2 linked regions of the Homo sapiens genome follow. The protein of the gene in region 1 interacts with the protein of each later gene in a pairwise test. Each region holds a gene or a part of one and is shown in the gene's direction. Other genes may lie near its edges. The genes, in order: WASHC3 and SRGAP2B.

The links.
Region 2: the proteins of WASHC3 (region 1) and SRGAP2B interact in a two-hybrid assay, tested with the Homo sapiens proteins (one large-scale study listed by BioGRID).

Annotation. Positions count from the first base shown.
Region 1 is NC_000012.12:102,051,755-102,055,570, reverse strand, and holds part of WASHC3 (WASH complex subunit 3), read left to right. Parts: intron 1-3,816. UniProt on the Homo sapiens protein: Acts as a component of the WASH core complex that functions as a nucleation-promoting factor (NPF) at the surface of endosomes, where it recruits and activates the Arp2/3 complex to induce actin polymerization, playing a key role in the fission of tubules that serve as transport intermediates during endosome sorting.
Region 2 is NC_000001.11:144,903,091-144,906,906, reverse strand, and holds part of SRGAP2B (SLIT-ROBO Rho GTPase-activating protein 2B), read left to right. Parts: intron 1-832; coding exon 833-1,048; intron 1,049-1,687; coding exon 1,688-1,816; intron 1,817-3,816. UniProt on the Homo sapiens protein: May regulate cell migration and differentiation through interaction with and inhibition of SRGAP2. In contrast to SRGAP2C, it is not able to induce long-lasting changes in synaptic density throughout adulthood.

The DNA of each region.
Region 1 (3,816 bases):
AGTTCGAGACCAGCCTGGCCAACATGGTGGAATGCTGTCTCTACTAAAAATACAAAAATTAACTGGGCGTGGTGGTGCACACCTGTATTCCCACCTACTTGGGAGGCTGAGGCAGGAGAATCACTTGAACCTGGGAGGTGGAGGTTGCAGTGAGCCAAGATTGCGCCATTGCACTCCAGCCTGGGTGACAGAGCAAGACTCCATCTCAAAAAAACAAAACAAAAGAAAAAAGAAAAGCTTCGCTGATTCTTTCAAACACACATCAGACCTTAAGTTCATTAGCATTTATAACGTCACTGAGCTGCATTGAGCTCTGTGGCTGAAAAAGCCAATTCTTTGTATTTCTGTGGTATCAGTTGTAACATCTCTTTCGTTTCTGATATTATTTGAATCTTCTCCTTTTCTTAATCTAGCTAAAAGTTTGTGGATTTTGTTTTTCTTTTCAAAAATCCAGCTCTTAGTTTCATTGATCTTTTCTATTGTTTTTCTAGTCTCTTTCATTTTTTTCTGTTCCGATCATTATTATTTTTTTCCTTCTACTAACTTTGGGTTTTATTTGTTCTTCTATTCCTTCAGTTGTAACACTAGGATGTTACACTTTGGATCTTTCATCTTTTTTGTTATAGGTCTTTACTGCCGAAGCTTCCTTTCCTCTTAAAACTGCTTTTGCCACCTCCCATAAGTATTGATGTGTTGTATGTCCATTTTCATTTGTCTCAAAATACTTTTAATTTCGTTTTTAATTTACTTGACCTATTGGTTGTTTAGGAGCATGTTATTTAATTTCCAGTTATTTATGATTTTTTTCAAGATTCCTTCTATTATTGATTTCTGGTTTCAAACCAATATGGTCAGAAAAGATACTTGATACGATTTCAGTCTCCTTAAATGTATTAAAATTTGTTTTGTGGCATATCATATAACCTGGAGAATGTTTTGTGTGCCCTTGAGAAGAATGTGTATTCTGTTGCTGTTTTATTGAATTTTCTACATATGTCTGTTAGGGCCAGTGTTTCATTATTGATTTTCTGCCTGGATGATATGTCCATGGTGTTTGTAGAGACGGCGTCTCACCATGTTGCCCAGGCTAGTCTCAAACTCCTGAGTTCAGGGGATCCTCCCGCCTTGGCATCCCAAAGTGCTGGGATTACAAATGTGAGCCACTGTGCTGAGCTCTTTTCCATTCTTTCACTTCAATCTATGTGTGTCCATTTTTTAAAGGTGAAGTGAGTCTCTTGTACACAGCAGGTAGTTGGGTCTTATTTTTGTATCTATTCAGTCAATCTGTGTCTTTTGATCAGAGAATTTAGTCCATTTACATTCAGGGTAATTATTGATAGATAAGGACTTACTGCTGCGATTTTGTTCATTGTTTTCTAGTTGCTTTATAGATCTTTTGTTCCTTTCTTCCACTCTTGCTGTCTTTTGTGATTAGATGATTGTCTCTAGTGATATACTTTGATTCCTTACTTTTCATCTTTTGTGTATTTACTATTAGGTTTTTGCTTTGTTGTTCCCATGAGGCTGACATAAAACATGTTATAACAGGCTATTTTAAACTGATAATAACATAATTGATAACATAAAAAACCTCTGCACTTTTACTCCACCTCTCCACATTTTGCTTTTGATTTTGCAACGTATATCTTTTTATACTGCATATCCCTTAACAAGTTATTGTAGCTATTATTATTTTTAATAGTTTTGTCTGTTAACTTTCATACTAAAGATATAAGTGATTTAATCACCATGACAGTATTAGAATATTCTGAATTTGACTGTATACATTTTTTTTTCAGCTCTAAAATTTCTGTTTGATTTTTTAAATAATAATTCCAATCTTTCTGTTACATTTCTCATTTTGGTCATTTATTATTTTCTTGATTTCATTGAATTGTTTCTCTGAATTTTCCTGAAGTCCACTGAGTTTCCCTAAAACAATAATTTTGGATTCGTTGTGAAGAAGGGTCAGTTACTGGTGATTTGTTTCTTTAGTAGTGACGTGTTTCTCTGATTATTCTTGGTCTTTGTGGCCATGTGTTGGTATGTGTGTGTTTGAAGAAGTAAGGACTTACTCCAGTCTTTGCAGACTGGCTTTGTCTGGGAAAGCCCTTCACCAGTAAGCTCATCCAGAGGTTCTAGACAGGCCATCTGTTGTGGTGCATGGCAGGCTTGCTGCTGGAGTCCTTGGGTAGGCTGGCCTGGTGCCTAGGTTCGTAGGGTTGTTCCTGGAGCCTGATCCACTGGGGTGGACCTGCTGATTAGCTCTATAGGGGTGGGCCTGGATCCTTAGGGTTCCAACTTGAAGCCTAAGTCTGCAGGGGTTGGTCTGGCACTGGGGTGAGCCTTGAGCCTGAGTCTGCAGTGTCTGGCCAGGTTCCAAGGTGGGCCTGGTGCTTGGAACCCCTGGGGTGGACCTGGAGCCAGAGTATGTGGGGGTGGGCCTGGGTCCTGGTTGTACTGTGACTAGCCTGGAGCCTGAGTCTGCAGGAGTGGTCCTGCAGCCTCCGTCCATGGGGGCCAATCTGGCAATGCAATCTACTGGGGTGGTCCCAGACTCTGGGTCTGCTGGAACATACCTAGACCCTGACTCACCACAGGGATTTGTCTGGGGCCAGCTTGGTGCTGGGGCAAGTGTGCAGCCTGGGGTCACAGGGGCCAGACTGGAGCCTGAGATTATAGGTGCTGGCCTGGTAACTTGGGCTACATGGGGCTGGCCTGGGTCCTACGGCAATAGTGGCTAGCCTGGAACTTGAGTCCACAGGGATGGTCCTGGAGCCTGTGTTTATGGGTGTCAGCCCAACAGAAGGGCCTACTGGGATGGGCCTAAACCCTACTTCCACTAGGGTATGGGCTGCAGGAGCCAGACTGGGGCCACAGGAGCTGACTTGGCACTGGTCAGGCCTGGAACCTATATCTGCAGGAGCTGACCTGGTGCTGGGGTGGGCCTGAACCTTGGGCCCATGGAGGCTAGCCCTGTGCTGGGATTGGTCCAGAACCTAGGGCCACTGGGGCTGGCCTGTCCCTAGAGCAGACCTGGAGACAATCTATGCAGTCTTGCCTGGTGCTGGGACTGTCCTGAGCCTTGAGCTGGTCTGGAACCTACGGTCCCAGTGGGACAAGCCTAGAACTCAGGACTGGGTGATCCAGCCTAGTGCCAGGATGGGCCTAAAGGCTTCGCCTGCAGGTGTCAGCCTGGAGTCTGGGCTGAGGGGGCTTGCTCAGCACTGAGTTCTGCTGGGGTGGGCCTGGTGTTGTGGTCCAAGGCAAAGTCCTGTGCTCACTGCCTCTCCTTCGCCCACCTGGAGGGTATCTCTCTCCATGCTGTGCTGCCTGGAGTTGGGGGAAGGGTGACATGAGTTCTGTAAAACTGTCCTTCTTACCCTCTTCAGTGTGTTTTTTCTTACTTTTGTGCTAAACCCAGTGCTGTAATTTCTCACCTGGTCTCCTTAGCTCTTGAGAATGTATTTTCGTGCGTGAATAGTTTTTCAAATGGATGTTTCTGTGGGAGGATCAGTGCTGGAAAGTCCTATTCCCCCATCTTGCTGTTGTCCCACCTTTTTCTCCTTTATGTATGATAATCTAGGGTTGACTGTAACTGATTGTCTACAATATATATTTTAGCAATTTGGATATTCATGTCAGCTGGAGACTGCTCAATGAGATAACAACTAATATTTATTGTGTACTTCCTCTGTGCTGGGCATCATACTAAGTGCTTTATGTGTATTTAATTATCGCAGTCAGTCCTTTGAGAGAGGTTTAGTTATCCCACTCATACAGATACAGAAACTAAGATGTAGAGAAGTTTAAATC
Region 2 (3,816 bases), on another chromosome or scaffold:
GATGGAAAATCATCCTTCACCTTTTATACTACTTCCCTCCTGTGGCAATTCCAGTTATACTTGATATGGATTTTATTCCTTCCCAGACTCTTACCTGAATTGTTTTGAAGGCTTACAGTCTTCATAGGGTTGTTGTCTAGATTGTGGAATTGTCCTAAGGATGAAATGAGAAAATGTGTTGTGTGGTACTTGGCATAAAGCCAGGAATATACTAAGTGCTCAGTAAATGATAACTGGCATTGCAATTGCTGCTGCTGCTTTAGTTGCTGTGAGAGGGTGTTTGATCTGGATAAAGCAGAACAGACAGATCCCCAGAATGCCAGGCCAGTAAAAGGAGCTTTTGGAAGCTTTTCCTCTTCCCTATTTTATATCTGAAAGGTAACAGAAAGCATAGGCTACTCCATAGGCTGCACTGCCCTCTTCGGGGTTCCTGACCAGCCCAGAAAGGCTTTGCCCTTGGGGCCTGAGAGTGGTGGTGTTGTTTCCCATCTACTCAGTATTATGAGGTGACTAAGTGATAGAAATCACCTGGCCAATATTAAAGAGAAGTGATTACAAATGATAATGAATAGAAATAAATAATACATGATGGATAGACATTAAGTTATTTCAATAAGAGGAAATGTTGGCTCAGTTCACATATTGCTTTCCTGTGCTTTGGAGTGGTCTTTAATCTGTGTTTGCTGAACCAAACACTTCTGGATTTTTCCCTTAGGGGTGTGAGGATATTGCTTCATGGGGGAGAGCTCCAGCTGAGTCTGTTAGTCTGTAAAGCAGAGAAATGACACCCTTGGCTTGACCTCTGGGGGTGGGGGTGGGCGATGTCTTGCAGGTCATGAAGACATATCACATGTACAATGCCGACAGCATCAGTGCTCAGAGCAAACTAAAGGAGGCGGAGAAGCAGGAGGAGAAGCAAATTGGTAAATCGGTAAAGCAGGAGGACCGGCAGACCCCACGCTCCCCTGACTCCACGGCCAACGTTCGCATTGAGGAGAAACATGTCCGGAGGAGCTCAGTGAAGAAGATTGAGAAGATGAAGGAGAAGGTATGTAGGCTCCCACAGCTGTAGATGCTGGGAAGCAACATTCGGTAAGGCATGGCTGATAGGAATTTCCCAACAGTCACTGGGAAGAGCAGACGAGGAAGCTCTGGGTTCTTTTAGTGCCTAATGACTGAAAATGAGGCCTTGCTCTGTGCCCTGGCAGGAATACTAGGTATTGGAAGAACTGGGCACGTGGGTTCCAAGTTTCTAGCCTCTAGCAGAAAACCAAGAAACAGCAGTCACCTTTCCCAATCCATTTTCCAAATAGAGCTCAATATCCTATTGCTTTGGAGGGGTTGGGGGTGACTGTAAACCCAGGATTTGGTTTCAGGTATCAGGTGTTCAGGGGCAAGAGTAGTGGTACCTCCTTCAGAGTGGCATTGCAAGAATGAAGAATGATATTTGAAGATAGAATCAAAGTGGGGCACACATCTTAAGTAGGGAGCCTCATTAACCTTTCCTGAATTGATCTACATTGTGCCCTTGAATCTCATTAAACAGAATTAGAACCCAATTTAAGGCAGATGCGCATAGGGAGTAGCAACACAATTGTAGTTCTTGAATACACTGTACTTTTATCTTTTAGAGAACAAGCCCCCCTTAAAAAAAAAAGGTAAAAGTGAACTTCTGTTTCCTTTTCAGCGCCAAGCCAAGTACACGGAGAATAAGCTGAAGGCCATCAAAGCCCGGAATGAGTACTTGCTGGCTTTGGAGGCAACCAATGCATCTGTCTTCAAGTACTACATCCATGACCTATCTGACCTTATTGATGTAAGTGCTTAAAGCCAAGGGCCTGAGGGCACCTCTTTTCTGGTTTCAGAATACTCGTCAGACATTCCCTGATACTATTGTTCAGGAATCTGGTGCATTTTGAGAACAATTAGGAAGATAGCAGCCATGATCCAACAGGGTGCTTGCCAAGCACCAAGTGAAACACTTCACACTTATTCAATCCTAACTGGAATTCTGGGAGGAAGGCATTATTATCTATATTTTTACAGATTAACAGAGAGTTTAGATGACTTAGTCAGAGTCAGTTAACAAATGACAGAGGCAAAATTTGCACCTAGGCCTGATGACTCAACCCAGGCTCATAACCACTACACTCGTCTATCTGCCAGGAAATACTTTCTTCCTTTTTTTTTTTTTTTTTTTTTTTTTTTGAGATAGAGTCTTGCTTTGTCCCCCAGGCTGGAGTGCAGTGGTGCAATCTTGGCTCACTGCAACCTCCATCTCCCAGGTTCAAGCAATTGTCCTACCTCAGCCTCCCCAGTAACTGGGACTACAGGCATGCATCACCATGCCCAGCTAATTTTTGTATTTTTAGTAGAGATGGGGTTTCACCATGTTAGTGAAGCTGATCTGGAACTCCTCACCTCAGGTGACCTGACCTCAGGTGATCCACCTGCCTCGACTTCCCAAAGTGCTAGGATTACAGGTGTGAGCCACTGCACCCGACCTAGGAAATACTTTATTACATCAGCTTCTCTTGCACAGAAGTGAGTGGCAAGAACTTAACTAAAGAGTTACAATGCCATCCCTTATATTTGTATAGCATTTAAGGTTTCTCGGTGTTAACTCATTTGACTCTCACATCACCATTATGGGTAAGCATTGCTGTCTCCAGTTGCTAGATAAGGAAGCTCAAGGTCCAGAGGACTACGAGACTCACTTGTCCAAGGTTATGCGCAAATTAGGGTCCTGTCAGGAAGGTATCCAGCTCCCCCTGACATCTGGCCCATTTTTAAAAATATGTGATGCAAAGGGGATTGAGGAAAGCGGTTAATAGGCACATGTGTTTTGCAAGGGGCAAGCGCAGGGATAAGCTTTTTGTTTTTTGCCTGTGAGTTATTCTTGGCCTTGTTTTTCCTGCTGCTTCCCCTTACAGTTGGGTCTTACAAGCCCTCTCACCTACAGACTCCAATCTGGCCCAGGTCCTGAGCCACACCTAAGTGAAGCTATGTAATTACACCCTTTCTCACCTCTCCTTCCAGTCATCAAAGTGAGGCATCTGGAGCCAGCCAATTTAGCATCCCAGTCTCTGGGGCTTCAAGTGTATCTCATCTTGGAGGCCTGCCATTTGTTTCAGGGTCTTGTTGGCAGCAGTTGGGCTTTGCAAAACTCTGGCCCGACCACTCTTGCTTTCCTGCCTTGGTTTCTCCACAAGCAAACCTGCCACACCTCACAACATCATATGGGATTTGGGTCCGAGTCTTGCTGTTATATCACCACCTGGGTCATCTAGGCTTGTCACTGAATTGTTCTGGAACCCAGCTTTGTTTCTCACCCACTCCCAAGCTCCTCTAGCTAACTGAAGAACTGGACTAATTCCCTGGTATTAAAATCTGGCCTCACGTAAGAGTTGCTTGGGGAACTTCTCTAAAATACAGATTCCTGTCTCCCTTTAGCCGAGGATTTTTGATTCAGTAGATTTCAGCCACTTAATGCCCTAGGTGTCATTGTCTCACTGGGTTAGTAGAGCCTTGCTCCCTGTTCTGGTACCTCTTTGTTCTCTCTGCTTGTTGATGACAATCTGAACACTGTCCTTCAATGGAGGTCAAAGCCCTAAACAAGATCCTTTCTCCTCCTCAGGGGAAGAGCTCCTCATTGTTGGGAGAGAGGCCTGTTCTCAGCATAAGGAAGAGAATCCATTCTTTCTTATGCACAATTTCTGCTATTTATCTCGCATTTGGTAAAAATTCAGACTGTGCTGTCTGCCACACCGCTGCTATTGGTTAGCCCTCTTCTCTTTTTTTGTACTCAAGGCAACT